3 linked regions of the Homo sapiens genome follow. The protein of the gene in region 1 binds, or shares a complex with, the protein of each later gene. Each region holds a gene or a part of one and is shown in the gene's direction. Other genes may lie near its edges.

Region 1 (7,031 bases):
CAAACTAACTAAATAAATAAAAATATAAAAATTAGCCAGGTGTGGTGGCAGGTGCCTATAATCCCAGCTACTCAGGAGGCTGAGGCGGGAGAATTGCTTGAACCTGGGAGGCGGAGGCTGCAGTGAGCCGAGATTGTGCCACTCCACTCCAGCCTGGTAGACAGAGCAAGATGCCATCTCAAAACAAACAAAAAGCCAACTTAATTGTTACGTGATAGTTAAGCCAGTATGCATCCCAGAACCATTAATATGTAATTTTTTGAGATTTTTCTACAGCTGGGTCTGGCAGCCTATTTTTGTAAATAAATTTTATTGGAACACTGCTGTTCATTTACATGTCTGTGGCAGATTTCTAGTTAATATTGCAGAGTAGGTGAACAGGAAACAAGACCTACAAAGCCTAACGGATTACTATATGGCCTTATAAGAAAAATTTGCGGCCGGGTGCGGGGGTCACCCCTGTAATCCTAGCACTTTGGGAGGCTGAGGCGGGTAAATCACGAGGTCAGGAGTTCAAGACCAGCCTGGCCAAGATGGTGAAACCCCATCTCTACTAAAAATACAAAAATTAGCTGGGCGTGGTGGCGGGCTTCTGTAATCCCAGCTACTTGGGAGGCTGAGGCAGAGAATTGCTTGAACCTGGGAGGCGGAAGTTGCGGTAAGCCAAGATCATGCCACTGCACTCCAGCCTGGATAACAGAGCGAGACTCTGTCTCAAAGAAAAAAAAAAAAAAAAAAAGAAAAATTTGCTGGCTGGGTGTGGTGGCTCACGCCTATAATCCCAGCACTTTGGGAGGTGGGTGGATCGCCTGAGGTCAGGAGTTCGAGACCAGCCTGACTGACATGGAGAAACCCTGTCTCTACTAAAAATACAGAATTAGCTGGGCGTGATGGCGCATGGCTGTAATCCCAGCTACTCGAGAGGCTGAGGCAGGAGAATCACTTGAACCTGGGAGGTGGAGGTTGCAGTGAGCCAAGATCGCGCCATTGCACTCCAGCCTGGGCAACAAGAGCAAAACTCCGTCTCAAAAAAAAAAAAAAAAAGAAAAAAAAATTTGCTGACATATGTTCTAGAGCAAAACGTTTGCAAACTGAGGTTTATGAATATAAATTTATCTGGAAAATAAAAAGTGCTTTGCTTTAAAATAAACAAGATTTATAACAGAAATAGCACTTTTTATAATAGTGTAGGTTTGGGATGATCTAAGTCATTAAGGTTTAGTACTTAATGGGTCAAGAGATTTTTCTTTTCTTTTTTTTTTTTTTGAGATGGAGTCTTGTACTGTCACCTGGGCTGGAGTGCCATGGCACAATCTCAGCTCACTGCAACCTCTGCTTCCCGGGTTCAAGCAATTCTGCCTCAGCCTCCCAAGTAGTTGGGATTACAGGCACCTGCCACCATGCCCAGCTAATTTTTTGTATTTTTTCTTTTTTTTAGTAGAGATGGGGTTTCACTATGTTGGCCAGGCTGGTCTCAAAACTCCTGACCCTGTGATCCACCCGCCTCGGCCTCCCAAAGTGCTGGGATTACAGGCGTGAGCCACTCTGACCGGCGGAGATTTTTCTAATGGTTCCTTAATTAAAATAAATTATGTATCCCTGTAATTACCATATGAAGCCCCCCAGAGGACGACATTTTCTTTTTTCCTTTGAAATGAAGTCTTGCACTGTCACCAAGGCTGGCGTGCAATGGGACGATCTTGGCTCGCTGCGATCTCTGCCTCCTGGGTTCAAGTGATTCTCCTGTCTACCCTTCCTGAGTAGCTGGGATTACAGCTGTGCACCGCCACGGCTGGCTAATTTTTTGTATTTTTAGTAGAGACAGGGTTTCACCCCGCTGGCCAGGCTGGTCTCAAACTCCTGACCCGAAGTGATCCACCCTCCTCGGCCTTCCAAAGTGCTGGGATTGCAGGAGTGAGCCACCGCGCCCGACCTAAGGAGGCATTTTTTTTTTTGAGACGGAGTCTCACTCTGTTGCCAAGCTGGAGTGCAGTGGTGTGATCTCAGTGCAATGCAACCTCCGCCTCCCTTGTTCAAGCAATTCTCCTGCCTCAACCTCCCGAGTAGCTGGGATTACAGGCACGCGCCACCACGCCCAGCTAATTTTTGTATTTTTAGTAGAGACGGGGTTTCACCATGTTGGCCAGGATGGTGTCGATCTCCTGACCTCATGTTCCAGCCGCCTTGGCCTCCCAAAGTGCTGGGATTACAGGCGTGAGCCACTGTGCCCGGCCCCTAAGGAGGCATTTTCTTACTGAGTTCCATTATTACCAATTTTCTTTTAGTTAAGTTTGAAATTCAATTATTTGGACTCTTGTTTATAGTTTGCTTTTGTTGTGTGATTCATAAGAGGTTGACAATTTTATGTTGGGTTAGATTTTTAGAATGTATTTACCCAAAGCTCTGGTATTTGATAGAACTATTTTTGTCTTACAGATTATTTGCCCTACCTGAAAACTGCTTACTGCAAAACTCTGATGTTATATCTAAATCTCAGGTCTCATTCAGCAGCTATTGCAATGTTAACTTTGTTTTCTTCTTTATTTTGCAGATGTATGTCCATCCCTGTGACGATGAGGGCTATTCGGAGGAAAGCTGAAACCATTCAAGCCGACACCCCAGCACTGTCCCTCATTGCAGAGACAGTTGAAGACATGGTGAAAAAGAACCTGCCCCCGGCTAGCAGCCCAGGGTATGGCATGACCACAGGCAACAACCCAATGAGTGGTACCACTACACCAACCAACACCTTTCCGGGGGGTCCCATTACCACCTTGTTTAATATGAGCATGAGCATCAAAGATCGGCATGAGTCGGTGGGCCATGGGGAGGACTTCAGCAAGGTGTCTCAGAACCCAATTCTTACCAGTTTGTTGCAAATCACAGGGAACGGGGGGTCTACCATTGGCTCGAGTCCGACCCCTCCTCATCACACGCCGCCACCTGTCTCTTCGATGGCCGGCAACACCAAGAACCACCCGATGCTCATGAACCTTCTTAAAGATAATCCTGCCCAGGATTTCTCAACCCTTTATGGAAGCAGCCCTTTAGAAAGGCAGAACTCCTCTTCCGGCTCACCCCGCATGGAAATATGCTCGGGGAGCAACAAGACCAAGAAAAAGAAGTCATCAAGATTACCACCTGAGAAACCAAAGCACCAGACTGAAGATGACTTTCAGAGGGAGCTATTTTCAATGGATGTTGACTCACAGAACCCTATCTTTGATGTCAACATGACAGCTGACACGCTGGATACGCCACACATCACTCCAGCTCCAAGCCAGTGTAGCACTCCCCCAACAACTTACCCACAACCAGTACCTCACCCCCAACCCAGTATTCAAAGGATGGTCCGACTATCCAGTTCAGACAGCATTGGCCCAGATGTAACTGACATCCTTTCAGACATTGCAGAAGAAGCTTCTAAACTTCCCAGCACTAGTGATGATTGCCCAGCCATTGGCACCCCTCTTCGAGATTCTTCAAGCTCTGGGCATTCTCAGAGTACCCTGTTTGACTCTGATGTCTTTCAAACTAACAATAATGAAAATCCATACACTGATCCAGCTGATCTTATTGCAGATGCTGCTGGAAGCCCCAGTAGTGACTCTCCTACCAATCATTTTTTTCATGATGGAGTAGATTTCAATCCTGATTTATTGAACAGCCAGAGCCAAAGTGGTTTTGGAGAAGAATATTTTGATGAAAGCAGCCAAAGTGGGGATAATGATGATTTCAAAGGATTTGCATCTCAGGCACTAAATACTTTGGGGGTGCCAATGCTTGGAGGTGATAATGGGGAGACCAAGTTTAAGGGCAATAACCAAGCCGACACAGTTGATTTCAGTATTATTTCAGTAGCCGGCAAAGCTTTAGCTCCTGCAGATCTTATGGAGCATCACAGTGGTAGTCAGGGTCCTTTACTGACCACTGGGGACTTAGGGAAAGAAAAGACTCAAAAGAGGGTAAAGGAAGGCAATGGCACCAGTAATAGTACTCTCTCGGGGCCCGGATTAGACAGCAAACCAGGGAAGCGCAGTCGGACCCCTTCTAATGATGGGAAAAGCAAAGATAAGCCTCCAAAGCGGAAGAAGGCAGACACTGAGGGAAAGTCTCCATCTCATAGTTCTTCTAACAGACCTTTTACCCCACCTACCAGTACAGGTGGATCTAAATCGCCAGGCAGTGCAGGAAGATCTCAGACTCCCCCAGGTGTTGCCACACCACCCATTCCCAAAATCACTATTCAGATTCCTAAGGGAACAGTGATGGTGGGCAAGCCTTCCTCTCACAGTCAGTATACCAGCAGTGGTTCTGTGTCTTCCTCAGGCAGCAAAAGCCACCATAGCCATTCTTCCTCCTCTTCCTCATCTGCTTCCACCTCAGGGAAGATGAAAAGCAGTAAATCAGAAGGTTCATCAAGTTCCAAGTTAAGTAGCAGTATGTATTCTAGCCAGGGGTCTTCTGGATCTAGCCAGTCCAAAAATTCATCCCAGTCTGGGGGGAAGCCAGGCTCCTCTCCCATAACCAAGCATGGACTGAGCAGTGGCTCTAGCAGCACCAAGATGAAACCTCAAGGAAAGCCATCATCACTTATGAATCCTTCTTTAAGTAAACCAAACATATCCCCTTCTCATTCAAGGCCACCTGGAGGCTCTGACAAGCTTGCCTCTCCAATGAAGCCTGTTCCTGGAACTCCTCCATCCTCTAAAGCCAAGTCCCCTATCAGTTCAGGTTCTGGTGGTTCTCATATGTCTGGAACTAGTTCAAGCTCTGGCATGAAGTCATCTTCAGGGTTAGGATCCTCAGGCTCGTTGTCCCAGAAAACTCCCCCATCATCTAATTCCTGTACGGCATCTTCCTCCTCCTTTTCCTCAAGTGGCTCTTCCATGTCATCCTCTCAGAACCAGCATGGGAGTTCTAAAGGAAAATCTCCCAGCAGAAACAAGAAGCCGTCCTTGACAGCTGTCATAGATAAACTGAAGCATGGGGTTGTCACCAGTGGCCCTGGGGGTGAAGACCCACTGGACGGCCAGATGGGGGTGAGCACAAATTCTTCCAGCCATCCTATGTCCTCCAAACATAACATGTCAGGAGGAGAGTTTCAGGGCAAGCGTGAGAAAAGTGATAAAGACAAATCAAAGGTTTCCACCTCCGGGAGTTCAGTGGATTCTTCTAAGAAGACCTCAGAGTCAAAAAATGTGGGGAGCACAGGTGTGGCAAAAATTATCATCAGTAAGCATGATGGAGGCTCCCCTAGCATTAAAGCCAAAGTGACTTTGCAGAAACCTGGGGAAAGTAGTGGAGAAGGGCTTAGGCCTCAAATGGCTTCTTCTAAAAACTATGGCTCTCCACTCATCAGTGGTTCCACTCCAAAGCATGAGCGTGGCTCTCCCAGCCATAGTAAGTCACCAGCATATACCCCCCAGAATCTGGACAGTGAAAGTGAGTCAGGCTCCTCCATAGCAGAGAAATCTTATCAGAATAGTCCCAGCTCAGACGATGGTATCCGACCACTTCCAGAATACAGCACAGAGAAACATAAGAAGCACAAAAAGGAAAAGAAGAAAGTAAAAGACAAAGATAGGGACCGAGACCGGGACAAAGACCGAGACAAGAAAAAATCTCATAGCATCAAGCCAGAGAGTTGGTCCAAATCACCCATCTCTTCAGACCAGTCCTTGTCTATGACAAGTAACACAATCTTATCTGCAGACAGACCCTCAAGGCTCAGCCCAGACTTTATGATTGGGGAGGAAGATGATGATCTTATGGATGTGGCCCTGATTGGGAATTAGGAACCTTATTTCCTAAAAGAAACAGGGCCAGAGGAAAAAAAACTATTGATAAGTTTATAGGCAAACCACCATAAGGGGTGAGTCAGACAGGTCTGATTTGGTTAAGAATCCTAAATGGCATGGCTTTGACATCAAGCTGGGTGAATTAGAAAGGCATATCCAGACCCTATTAAAGAAACCACAGGGTTTGATTCTGGTTACCAGGAAGTCTTCTTTGTTCCTGTGCCAGAAAGAAAGTTAAAATACTTGCTTAAGAAAGGGAGGGGGGTGGGAGGGGTGTAGGGAGAGGGAAGGGAGGGAAACAGTTTTGTGGGAAATATTCATATATATTTTCTTCTCCCTTTTTCCATTTTTAGGCCATGTTTTAAACTCATTTTAGTGCATGTATATGAAGGGCTGGGCAGAAAATGAAAAAGCAATACATTCCTTGATGCATTTGCATGAAGGTTGTTCAACTTTGTTTGAGGTAGTTGTCCGTTTGAGTCATGGGCAAATGAAGGACTTTGGTCATTTTGGACACTTAAGTAATGTTTGGTGTCTGTTTCTTAGGAGTGACTGGGGGAGGGAAGATTATTTTAGCTATTTATTTGTAATATTTTAACCCTTTATCTGTTTGTTTTTATACAGTGTTTCGTTCTAAATCTATGAGGTTTAGGGTTCAAAATGATGGAAGGCCGAAGAGCAAGGCTTATATGGTGGTAGGGAGCTTATAGCTTGTGCTAATACTGTAGCATCAAGCCCAAGCAAATTAGTCAGAGCCCGCCTTTAGAGTTAAATATAATAGAAAAACCAAAATGATATTTTTATTTTAGGAGGGTTTAAATAGGGTTCAGAGATCATAGGAATATTAGGAGTTACCTCTCTGTGGAGGTATTGACTTGTAATCTCATTTTCCTTTCAAAAAAAAAAAAAAAAGCTAAGGTGGCTTGTTGGGATGTAAACATGTTTTCAGATGCAGTAAGGTTTAGTGTAGGACAGCCTTCCTGACCCAGTGGCATGAAAACCATTACAGGATTAATAGTTCTCCTACTTCCACAATGTGCCAAAAGTCTGCATCCCAGCATTTTGTTTGCAGGAGAACTGATGCCATTCCTAAGAGCTGGACTCACTGTTTCTCTTCATCACAAGGAGAAGGAGTCCAAACTTTAATCACTCCACTGTATGCTCCCTGAGATAAAACAGTAAAAAATCCGCAGCCATAGTTCACTTAAAACAATTTCAAGCTCACTTTTG
Region 2 (7,031 bases), on another chromosome or scaffold:
TTAATAAAATAAATTCTTCTATTGCCAGGACTGTCAGGAATAGCTAAAGATGTAAAAGATCTAAACCAGTGTGTTCTTTCAGAGAATAAGTTAAAAATAATATTTTATAGAGTTAAAAAGAAAAGCACTTGGATTTTTTTTTTCCAATGGCTGGACTCAGTTGGCCAATACCCTTGTTTGCCTGCTGAGTAACTCTTTGGCTGGCAATTGATTTTTTTAAGAGCTGTGGTTATGTGCTAGTTCATTAGCATGTGAATAATTCTTCATATTAAGTTTTCATTTGTTTGTCGTAAATCTCTAAACCCTGCAGGAAAGCAGAATATCTTTGACAGCTTTCAAACTTCACTTCTATCACACACAGCACTCCACCAGCACCTCTAGGAAACAGTGGTTCAAAAGGCCCTGCCCCAAGACCCCAGCATGTTAAGAGCGTTAGTTTAAAATCTCCAGTTCATCCTAGAACAATCATTTTAAAAGGAAAAAAAGAAGTGGGGAAGTCCTATAGAAAGCAATGGAAAGGGAAAAGTTCTCAACCCAGAATCGGGGCTTAGGTTCTAGTTCCTGGTTTGCTATAAATGGCACTTTGACTTTGGAATGTCTCTGGCTTCCGTTTATCCATTAGTCAGAGAATGATGGGACAGATTACTTCTGAAGACCCCTTATGTCCTATAAATCTCATAGTTCTCAACAAGAGGGAAACGGGAACAACAGGGGCAGAAACCAACGAGAGGCTGAGGAAACCAAACCAATGAGTTTTGGATTGTAGCTAACCGAGGAGAACCAGGTGTGTCAAAGGTGATGAAAGTCAGATGTGTAAAAAGCAAGAAGGAAACAAAATGAAGAACATGAGCCCTAAGAATTCAGTGTCTTTCCCTGGTAAAACTAAGAACATCAGGAAAGCCACACTCGATGAGGCACACATTTTTCCAAGCCAGTTTTCACTCTGACAGGGTTACCTCAAGTGATTGTTTGAGAGAGGGTAGAGGGGTTGACTACACTCATTCAATCTGCCAAATTAGAAAAGTCACCCAGAATACCCTGTGCTTTTTGAGTGATTTTCATGTTTATCTCCCGTAGCTTGCTATTTTGTTATTCAAAAGGAGTGTAAACTTAGGGCATTCATGTATAATACCTTTCATAACTCATGTTAAAATGCTGATGTTATTGGATTTCTCAGGAACACTACTGTTCTATTTCTCCATTCAAAAAGGTAAAAAAAAAATTAATTACTCTATTTTCATCATTAATCCCATTTCCCCCATTGTCTTTGTATTCTACATAGGAAGCATGCCATAGATCTATAATTGAATTTACTCATCTATATAAAACAGTACTTTTAATCCCATCCTGAAAATCAAAATATATTTTTGAAAATCAAAATATGTCAAAATTGAAAATCAAAATGTCAAAATATTGAAAATTGAAATATATCAAAATTAATTATATTTGATGTATCCCTCAAAAAATTGATTTCTCCTTACAGAAATCATTTTGCTTTCCTGGAAAAACACTGGGTTCAAGTGCAGCTTTCTTCATTCCGTTCTGGTCTGTCCAGTATATGAAAAGCACAAGCACACAATGACCAGTGACAGATTCACCATGAAGCTAATGAAGCTTCATGGGGCCCTTCCCTTGTGCAGAAGTCCTTCCAGTGCTTGGGGAAGGGCCGAAGCAATTTTATTCTCATAATTTGTAATATTTTCCTTAGAGAGACTCCACTACTGTGTATATTTTATGCCCCACAAAACCTGAATTCACCCCATCATGTCCCATTTGTAATTAAGCTTTCTTTCCTGTTAAGGAGGGACGCTTACCCAGCCCTTTGATGTACGGTCTGAAGATAAATACACTGTTAGCCCCCAACTAGAAGTGTAAAATCATTAAGACAAAATTTGAGAATGATACGGCTCCTATAATGGCAATCTTTGGATGATACTGTCCAAGCTGATGGAAAGTGTAAGGACTCCACTTTGCTTTGTAAAAAATACAAAAAAACAGCCATGGAAGTGCAGTACATTTTGTATGGAACATTGTACCACATTGTACCAAATGTCATGTTAAATTAATGATTCAAGATAAAATGCAGACCAAATTTGACCAGGGTTTTAAGAGGTTCTCTCTCCATAAAGCAGGCTGGCCACGATCTTCTCACTAGGTTTGAGGGTAAGGAGGTCCCCTGTGAAATATGAAAGTGAACTCTCTGCTATCTAAGAATTGGTGAATTGGTTGCAAAGAAAGGCAGACCAGGCCCACCCAGGGATCACTCTTGCAGTTTGACAGATCTACCTGGAGGCTGAAAGAATCTATGCAGCCTTCGGAAATGCAGTGAAAACAGTATAATCAGATATGACTAGGGAAAAAATAAAACAACTGGTGTTCATTTGCATGTCAACACCCAGAATTCTCTGCTAGTTCACCTCTTCTTCAGAATGCAGAAAGGATTGAAAAAGCTGGAATGGGGCCGGGCATGGTGGCTCATGCCTGTAATCCCATCACTTTGTGAGGCAGAGGTGGGTGGATCACCTGAGGCCAGGAGTTCAAGACCAGCCTGGCCAACATGGTGAAACCCCGTCTATACTAAAAAATAAAAAAATTTAAAAAAAATTGCCGGGCGTGGTGGTGGGTGCCTGTAATCCCAGCTACTCTGGAGGCTGAGGAGAATCACTTGAACCCAGGAGGTGGAGGTTGCAGTGAGCCTAGATTGCGCCATTGCACTCCAGCCTGGGCAACAGGAGCAAAACTCCATCTCAAAAAAAAAAAAAAAAAAAAATGAAATGGTTTGGCATGATGGTGGGGTGCTGATTCCTCTCTCTGTCCTTGAGTATTTACTGCCAGGAAATCCTGACCAACATCAATTGCCAAGGGGTTAAAGTCACATTGTTGTTAAATTGGGAGAGAAAATTAGCAGGATTTTGTGCCCTATGTTCAACTATTACAGAGTTTCAAAAACAGGAACCTGGAGCTTTATATGAGGGGACAGGGGAAGTAAAGGGGAAGAGTGACAAGGGTGATTTATCAGGGCATAGTTCCAGATAAATCACTTACATGGAGGTGAAAGAATTTCATGCATATGTTCTGTGCCAAGAAGCCAAATGGTTGAGCAGAAGCTCTGAAAGTTGAAGTGGGCAGTTCTGGGTACAGTCTTTCCACATGTGAAAAGGTGATGATTTTATATTCATGTTATTTGTACTCCTGCATGTGCAGTTGGTCTTTTCAGGTGTCCAGATCATCATTTTCTCATGACATGAAAGAAAGCCAATAAAGGCTAGTTGTGGTGGCTCACACCTGTAATCCTAGCACGCACTTAGGGAGGCCAAAGCAGGACGATCACTTGAGCCCAGGAGTTCAAGACCAGCCCAGGCAACATACATAGCAAGACCTCATCTCAAAAAATGAAATAATTTTTTTTTAGAAAAAGAAAGTAAATATTTCATTAATATAAATTATAATACACTGTAAAATGCCTGGAGGACAAGAAACACGTTTTCTCTAGGTTCTGTGAAAGCATCATTATCCATTCACATTTTTCTCATAATTAGAACCTGACGTTCTGGAAAAATACAGTAAATTTTCATCGATGTTACTTGCTCTGCCCCCCTTGTATTCCTCCCATTAATAATATTAATCCTGAAAAGAAAAAAAGAAAAAGGAAAGAAACCACCCAAGCAAAATGTTTAAGAAATACGGTAAGGACAGTTTGGTCCCAATTTCCTTAAAAATTAGAGCCACCAAGTAAACCTGTTTGGGGGTCCTCACATCTGTCCTCTTTTGGAGTTTGCTAAGTAGTACAGTTGAAGTGAATTTTTTGGTAACAAAAGTAAAAACTTCCAGAATAACTCCAGTAAAGGGTGTTGATGTGACGTACAAGTTTGGAAATATATTTAATATCTGAGACTCCTCAATGTTGGTGTTATTTCCTCCAGTTTAGAACAAACTTAATCTTTTGATGAAAATCATAGAGTTCCATAGATATGAATAGAATCTCCAACCAGTGCATCTTGAAGCCGGCTGCCACGGCCACTCATGCACCTTCTCTCCTTTCAGGAGAGAATTGTCAGCATCTCTGCTCAAAACAATCTTTACTTTTAGTCCATCAGAGACTTCATGTTTGTCGTGCATGCACACTCACACCTCTCCACACATATGCCCACTCCCCACACACATCCTGCTTCTGAGAAATGCAACTAGAATTTCCTCCGGAGAAGAGATGGAAACCCCTGATTGAGAAATTTAAGGCCTAGGAAAGGTAAATGACTTTTCTTAAGTCACATGGCTCACCACAGAACCAAAGCTGGAACACACATACCCTCAGCTCTTCTTCCAGTGCTTTCAGGTATACAAGTATTTGAACAGGATTCAAGGTTTAACTCCTTATGTGTCATTCAGTGTATCCAGTGTAAGTAAAATGTTACCCCTTAGTCAGAACAGCCTTGAGAATTTCTCAATGACTACAAACCTTGCTTAGTTCTATACAAGGGAAGTAAAAGAGAGAGAATGTCATGACCAAATGACTTAACTTTTGAAGGCAGCCTATTGCAAACTTGAATAATTGGGGCATGTATTTTATTGATTGTTTGACCTATAAGGACAGATATTTTAAAATATAAATTCAAAATTGCTTTTTTGCAGCATTCACCTGTAGGCCTTCTATATCTGCTCTTTGTGAAATAGATGGCTTCCAGAGCATTAAAAAAAGAAATAGACATTTTCTTGGTTCAAGAGCTGTAATCTGCTTTCCGAGTGATTTTTCATAGTTAAGCATATTTTATGTGCACATAGTTTCATTTGAGATCTGAGAGGATTTCATCTAAAACGGAAAAGTTATTACCTGTGAAGGAGAACAAAGGAAAAGGAAAAAGAAATTTTAAGAAAAAAAAATTTTTTTAAACCTGTAGTTACTTTATGTTCAAGTGGGTATTTTCAACGCTGAGTTGCTGAAATGGTTTTTTATTGAAAGAAGGTTAAAAGTGTATTTCATTGAAAGCCAAGATAAACAGTAGATTTTGTATCATTTTAAAAATCAACAATCGGCCGGGTGTGGTGGCTCATGCCTGTAATCCCAGCCCTTTGGGAGGCCAAGGCAGGCAGATCACTTGAGGCCAGGAGTTCAAGACCAGCCTGGCCAACATGGTGAAACCCCATCTCTACTAAAAATACAAAAATCAGCTGGGTGTGGCAGTGCATGCCAGTAATCCCAGCTACCCAGGAGGCTGAGGCACAAGAATTGCTTGAACCTGGGAGGTGGAGGTTGCAGTGAGCCCTGATTGTGCCACTGTAATTCAGTCTGGGCGCAGAGTGAGACTCTGTCTCAAAAACAAACAAACAAATAATATAAAAATCAACAATGAAGACTCCCCAAACAAAAGAAATCAGGATTCTTAGCCAGTCATAGGTAAAGTGTTACAGTGTAAATTGAAGGGAAAGAAGACCAAAATTGGTGAAATATGTTTGGTCCCAGAAGATAATTAAGATGAATAAAAGAACTTGAGAGTATTTTCTCATTATTAAGCATCTTCAGCTTTAAAGATTTTAGTTAGCAAAGCAAGTTTACATAAACAGTTTTCTGAACCTGGGATGGCATTCACTGTGAGTTAGAAATCTCCAAGTCATCCACGTTTTCCCTGTTTTATTTGCAGCCATTCGTTATCTATGACATGAATTCCTTAATGATGGGAGAAGATAAAATCAAGTTCAAACACATCACCCCCCTGCAGGAGCAGAGCAAAGAGGTGGCCATCCGCATCTTTCAGGGCTGCCAGTTTCGCTCCGTGGAGGCTGTGCAGGAGATCACAGAGTATGCCAAAAGCATTCCTGGTTTTGTAAATCTTGACTTGAACGACCAAGTAACTCTCCTCAAATATGGAGTCCACGAGATCATTTACACAATGCTGGCCTCCTTGATGAATAAAGATGGGGTTCTCATATCCGAGGGCCAAGGCTTCATGACAAGGGAGTTTCTAAAGAGCCTGCGAAAGCCTTTTGGTGACTTTATGGAGCCCAAGTTTGAGTTTGCTGTGAAGTTCAATGCACTGGAATTAGATGACAGCGACTTGGCAATATTTATTGCTGTCATTATTCTCAGTGGAGGTAAGATTTGTCTTTTGATCTTCTATGAAAGAGGGTGGGATGATGGTGGGGTGGCCAAAAGAATTTTGGATTTCCTTAGTGTTAGTCTGCATTGTCACTTTAAGTGCCAGTGGCATGATGCCATGAATCATCACTACACGTGCAAAACACTGTACCAAGAAAGAGTGTCATAGGTTTGCGGTGTGAAGGTTATAAGTAACCCAGGATCTTCTCTTTCATCCCTCAACAATATATTTTTTCCAGTCAAATGCCCTCTTCTCCTTTTTCTTTTTCTTTTCTTTTCTTTGTCTCTTTCTTTTCCTTCCAGAAAGGAAGATTAGAGGCCAGTCTAATCTTTGGTTCCTGTAAGTAATGGCATGTATAACTTTGCTTAAGACAATGCTCACTTGATGTAGAGAAGGGACCACTAAGTATTTCTGGTCAAATCATGCTCCTGCCCCACCATCAGTAAGATACTACTTTGAATTGCTTTTGTGATATCAGGAATTAAGGAATACCTACTGACCTCCACCCACTCTCTTGTGTGGATTCCTCTGATGGCTTCCCTTAAAGTACCTTTGTGAGGTAGTTGGTTGTGATTAAGAATGCAATGTGAACCGAACACACAACATAGAAATAAATTTAGTTATTTAGCAATTTGTTGTATTTTTGGCCCTGCAAGTAGTACATGATCTGACTAACCAATTCCAAAAGCCAGATTTTCTTCTGAGTGTGACTTTTTTCTTTTTTTTTTCTTTTTTTTTTTTCCTTTTTTTTTTTTTTTTTTTTTTTGTGAGACAGGGCCTCACTCTGTCACCCAGACTGAAGTGCAGTTGCACAGTCATAGCTCACTGCAGCTTCTAACTGCAGTTAGTAAGCTATGATCATGCTACTTCATAAAAGTAATACGTGGCCATTTTACAGTTGGGCTCAAGTGATTCTCCCACCTCAGCCTCCCAAGTAGA
Region 3 (4,836 bases), 610 kb from region 1:
TCGGCCCTCCCCCAGGGTGGTGATCATGAACTCGATCCTGGAGCGCATGTGTGCCGACGTGCTGCAGCAGACAGCCACGCAGATCAAGTTTCCCTCCACCGGGGTGGACACAATGCCCTACTGGAACCTGCTGCCCCCCAAGCGGCCCATCAAAGAGGTGCTGACGGACATTTTTGCCAAGGTGCTGGAGAAGGGCTGGGTGGACAGCCGCTCCATCCACATCTTTGACACCCTGCTGCACATGGGCGGCGTCTACTGGTTCTGCAACAACCTGATTAAGGTACTTGGGCTGGAGTGGCTGTGGGCCGACATGGGTCCTGTCCCCTGGCTCCCCACACCTGGCCTGGTCTGCCAGGCTTCCCTGAGAGGCTGCCGTGAGCCAGGTGGCCTCCCCGGAATGCCTCGCCTCAGAGTTGCCTCCTTGGGGAGCTCTGGCCAGAGACTGGGATTCAGCCTGAGGGGCGGAGCAACATCTGGGGCCCCCTCTGCGGGCCTTACTGGACAGCCATGCTGGGGTGGCAGGGTGTAGGAGCCCCAGATCCCGGGCCCCTGGCTCCTGAACTGCCCCCTTTCCTGCGCACTAGGAGCTGCTGAAGGAGACGCGGAAGGAGCACACGCTGCGGGCAGTGGAGCTGCTCTACTCCATCTTCTGCCTGGACATGCAGCAAGTGACCCTGGTCCTGCTGGGCCACATCCTACCTGGCCTGCTCACTGACTCCTCCAAGTGGCACAGCCTCATGGACCCCCCGGGCACTGCTCTTGCCAAGTAAGATTCTCTTCAGAGCTTGCCCTGCTCCGGCCACCCAGGGTCAAGCACCCCTCGCCTGGTGCCACCCTGGGAGACTGGGCTTTGGGGAGCCCAGTCAGACACAGAAAGCTCCTGGGGCACCTCTCACTGTCCCCCTTTTTCTGGAACCCTTTGCCAGGCTGGCCGTGTGGTGTGCCCTCAGTTCCTACTCCTCCCACAAGGGACAGGCGTCCACCCGCCAGAAGAAGAGACACCGCGAAGACATTGAGGTAGGCCCCCCAGCTGCCCTCGCCGGCTTCACTTGTTCACCGGTTTGTTACAGCATTTCCTAAGGATTCCCCAGGCAAAGGGAAGCAGTTGTGGCCCCTGCCCTTGGGGCAGCTGTGCCTGGGCATGATTGGTCAGGAATCTGCATGGGTGATTTGTGTGGCCCCAGCTTGCCCATGGGCACAAGGGGCCTGTCAGATTGTGGGAGGGGTTGAGCAGAGAGGGGCTGAGGCCCTGCTAGCCATGCTGACCTCGCTCAAATCGGAGCTCAAGCTCTTTTCCCTGACAGCTGGAAACTGGGGGGTTTAGGGGTGTATAACAGTGACTTTCACTCCCTCTAGGATTATATCAGCCTCTTCCCCCTGGACGATGTGCAGCCTTCGAAGTTGATGCGACTGCTGAGCTCTAATGAGGACGATGCCAACATCCTTTCGAGCCCCAGTGAGTGTGTGGGCTGGCCGCGCGCCGCTCCTTTTCCTGGGAATTCACTCCCCGATGCTGCCACTCTGCCGCTGCCCCAGCTGCAGGCATCTTTGCAGCTGGTCAGAGAGGGTGTGGCAGGGACCTGCTGTTCTAGCCCCCAAGGGGGTGCTCTGTGTCCTGCCCCTGGAGAAGAGGTTGCTGTTCTCACTCCCTGAGGGTTGAAGCTCCTCTGCCCAGGTCCAGCCCAGCCCACAGTTGTTCCCCCACAGCCCTCCTGCCCCTCCCTTACCCCAGGGTTGAGGGGATGACAAGCTACCCAAGTGAGTGAGTTCACTGCCTCAGGCACAGCCTGTGCCATTGACTCACCAGCTCTGACCTTCCTTCCTTCCTTCCCCCAAAACATGCCCGGAGAGGCCCGGGCTGGGGCATGGGGCTACTCCCCACCTTCCTGCCTAAAGAGCACACCCCCCACCAACCACTTCCCTGGAGGTCATCCTTTTCACTGTCCCCTCCTCCCTGCCAGGCTTACTGCCAAGGGTTCCTTCTGTGGCATTTTTCCTGTTTCCAGAGATTTCTCCTGAGCCTGAACTTTTCTCTGAAGCCTTTTAGGAACTAGGGGACCAACTATACACTTGATCAGAAGAAAGATGCTAGGTTTGCCAGCTACAAGTGCTGTGACCTTTAGCTAGCGACTGAGCCAGCCCCCGTCTGGGTCTCCTCATCTGTAAATGGGGTGTTGTGAGGAGTAAGCAGCTTAGGAAGTACCAAGATCGGCCCCTGGCCCTGTGTGCTCACCACATGTTAGTTTTTCTCTCTCATTCCATTGGGATCTCTGTATCTGAGGTCCCTCTGTGCCCTTTTTTTGTTTTGTTTTTTGTTTGTTTGTTTGTTTGTTTGTTTGAGTTGGAGTCTCCCTCTGTTGCCCAGGCTGGAGTGCAGTCGCACGATCTCAGCTTACTGCAACCTCCGCCTCCTGGGTTTAAGCAATTTTCCTGTCTCAGCCTCCTGAGTCTCTGGGACTACAGGCGCCTGCCACAACGCCTGGCTAATTTTTGTATTTTTAGTAGAGACGGGGTTTCACCATATTGGTCAGGCTGGTCTCGAACTCCTGAACTCAGATGATCCACCCGCCTTGGCCTCCCAAAGTGCTGGGATTACAGGCGTGAGCCACCACGCCCAGCCTGTTTTTCTGAGACACGGTTTTGCTCTGTTGCTCAGGCTGGAGTGCAGTGGCACCATCTCGGCTCACTGCAGCCTTGTTCTCCTAGGCTCAAGCAGTCTGCCTCAGCCTCCCGAGGAGCTGGGACTACAGGCGTTGGCACCACACCCAGCTAATTTTTGTATTTTTTGTAGAGATGAGGTCTCGCTAGTTGCCAAGGCTGGTCTCAAACTCCTGGACTCAAGCGATCCTCCTGCCTCGGCCTCCCAAAATGCTGGGATTACAGGTGTGAGCCACTGTACCTGGCCTCCCTTTGTGCTCTTGATCTCAGGGTCTTCTCTGGGCTCTCCATGTACCAGTTACCTCCGATGGGTGAAGGTCGGGTTGGGGCATCCCCGGGGAGCACCACTTTTGCACTCGGCAGGCTGTTTCCCAGCGCTCCATCTGCTCCGTCCCACAGCAGACCGATCCATGAGCAGCTCCCTCTCAGCCTCTCAGCTCCACACGGTCAACATGCGGGACCCTCTGAACCGAGTCCTGGGTGAGTTCCCCACCCCTGCTGCCGAACCTGGGGCTAAGCTGGACGAGTCTCTCTTCTCATGGAGGCTGGGAGACCTTGTCAGCTGGAAGGGGCCTTGCGGTGCCCCTCCCTTCCCTCTCCATGCCCCTCATTGTTGGCTGTCCTGGCCCCCAGGCTCCTGTCTAGTTCCCCCTCCTCCCCTCCCCAATTGCCTTTTATATTTTCTCTCTCTGACACCCCATTTTGGGGACATGCTCAGCATGTGTTTCTTTTCCCTTTTCAGTCCCACCTTCTCCCAGAGTGTGACCTCACCCACTCTCATGGAACTCCCTCCTGTCACTCTCCCCCCACTCTCTACAGCCAACCTGTTCCTGCTCATCTCCTCCATCCTGGGGTCTCGCACCGCTGGCCCCCACACCCAGTTCGTGCAGTGGTTCATGGAGGAGTGTGTGGACTGCCTGGAGCAGGGTGGCCGTGGCAGCGTCCTGCAGTTCATGCCCTTCACCACCGTGAGTACCACCTTCCCGGCTCTCCTGCTGGTGCTGGGGCCTCGGGGCAGCCCTTAGAGCAGGGAGGGGCCTCCTTCCCCCTGGGACAGCACACCCACCACCAGCCGTCCCGCAAGCAGCATCTGTCTGTCCGTGGCAGGTGTCGGAACTGGTGAAGGTGTCAGCCATGTCCAGCCCCAAGGTGGTTCTGGCCATCACGGACCTCAGCCTGCCCCTGGGCCGCCAGGTGGCTGCTAAAGCCATTGCTGCACTCTGAGGGGCTTGGCATGGCCGCAGTGGGGGCTGGGGACTGGCGCAGCCCCAGGCGCCTCCAAGGGAAGCAGTGAGGAAAGATGAGGCATCGTGCCTCACATCCGCTCCACATGGTGCAAGAGCCTCTAGCGGCTTCCAGTTCCCCGCTCCTGACTCCTGACCTCCAGGATGTCTCCCGGTTTCTTCTTTCAAAATTTCCTCTCCATCTGCTGGCACCTGAGGAGAGTGAGCAGCCTGGACCACAAGCCCAGTGGTCACCCCTGTGTGCGCCCGCCCCAGCCCAGGAGTAGTCTTACCTCTGAGGAACTTTCTAGATGCAAAGTGTGTATGTGTGTGTGTGTGTGTGTGTGTGTGTGTTTGTGTGTATTTTGTAATATGTGAGGGAAATCTACCTTCGTTCATGTATAAATAAAGCTCCTCGTGGCTCCCTTTGTGACTGTGTGTGCTGTTGGTATTGGTGCCACCCGGGGCAGGGCATAGTGTCCTCTCCCTGGACTCCTGTGCTGTGGCCAGGGAACGGCTCACTCCTGTGGTGAGGAGGAGGAGGAAGAGGAGCAGAGGCGGCAGGGCTCAGGGTCCTATGTGGGCTTGCTCAGCTGGGGAAGGGCCAGGGGAAAGCAGCTTCCCTTCCTTGGAGCCAAGTTGGCTGGCCTGCTGCCCCCTCCCCCAAAGCCAGCTGTACCCTGAAAGGGGAGAGGCTTTGGCTCAGGGCCCCACAGTGCTGGGGCAGGGTGGCCTGCTCTGCTGTCTCCCGAACCTGGTCCAACACCACCCACACTCTGACTAGCCTGGGATTTGATCTGTTGCCTCCAAAAAAGGACTGGGGGATGGGAGGCGGGGGGATGAGGGGCCGGACCTTTCTTTAACCCTTCCTTGCCTGCCTCACACATCTCTGAGCCCCTAGATGGATGACTCCGAGCTGGCAGTGGGAACTTCTGACCCTGCTTTCCGAGGAGCC

Evidence for each region. The genes of interacting proteins can lie anywhere in the genome.
Region 2: the proteins of MED1 (region 1) and PPARG are in contact, whole or in part, in a crystal structure (PDB 6ONJ), measured with the Homo sapiens proteins. Residues at the interface, in NP_004765.2 of Homo sapiens: Asn638 (codon at 2,964), Thr639 (codon at 2,967), Asn641 (codon at 2,973), His642 (codon at 2,976), Pro643 (codon at 2,979), Met644 (codon at 2,982), Leu645 (codon at 2,985), Met646 (codon at 2,988), Leu648 (codon at 2,994), Leu649 (codon at 2,997), Lys650 (codon at 3,000), Asp651 (codon at 3,003); in NP_056953.2 of Homo sapiens: Val321, Gln322, Thr325, Glu326, Lys329, Phe334, Leu339, Asn340, Asp341, Gln342, Val343, Thr344, Leu346, Lys347, Gly427, Leu429, His494, Pro495, Leu496, Glu499, Ile500, Lys502.
Region 3: the proteins of MED1 (region 1) and MED24 are in contact, whole or in part, in a cryo-EM structure (PDB 8T9D), measured with the Homo sapiens proteins. Residues at the interface, in NP_004765.2 of Homo sapiens: Phe375, Asn377, Gly436, Leu437, Gln439, Glu441, Ser453, Asn459, Asp460, Ser461, Leu462, Val463, Cys464, Tyr480, Lys481, Gly482, Asp485; in NP_055630.2 of Homo sapiens: Lys7, Ile10, Trp14, Lys15, Arg17, Leu47, Ala50, Met51, Ile52, Gly53, Pro54.

The regions. Positions count from the first base shown.
Region 1 is NC_000017.11:39,406,242-39,413,272, reverse strand, and holds part of MED1 (mediator of RNA polymerase II transcription subunit 1), read left to right. Parts: intron 1-2,551; coding exon 2,552-5,798; 3' UTR 5,799-7,031. UniProt on the Homo sapiens protein: Component of the Mediator complex, a coactivator involved in the regulated transcription of nearly all RNA polymerase II-dependent genes.
Region 2 is NC_000003.12:12,411,068-12,418,098, forward strand, and holds part of PPARG (peroxisome proliferator-activated receptor gamma), read left to right. Parts: intron 1-5,636; coding exon 5,637-6,087; intron 6,088-7,031. UniProt on the Homo sapiens protein: Nuclear receptor that binds peroxisome proliferators such as hypolipidemic drugs and fatty acids.
Region 3 is NC_000017.11:40,018,575-40,023,410, reverse strand, and holds the end of MED24 (mediator of RNA polymerase II transcription subunit 24), read left to right. Parts: intron 1-15; coding exon 16-280; intron 281-584; coding exon 585-766; intron 767-926; coding exon 927-1,017; intron 1,018-1,356; coding exon 1,357-1,456; intron 1,457-3,057; coding exon 3,058-3,138; intron 3,139-3,477; coding exon 3,478-3,626; intron 3,627-3,765; coding exon 3,766-3,882; 3' UTR 3,883-4,307; downstream 4,308-4,836. UniProt on the Homo sapiens protein: Component of the Mediator complex, a coactivator involved in the regulated transcription of nearly all RNA polymerase II-dependent genes.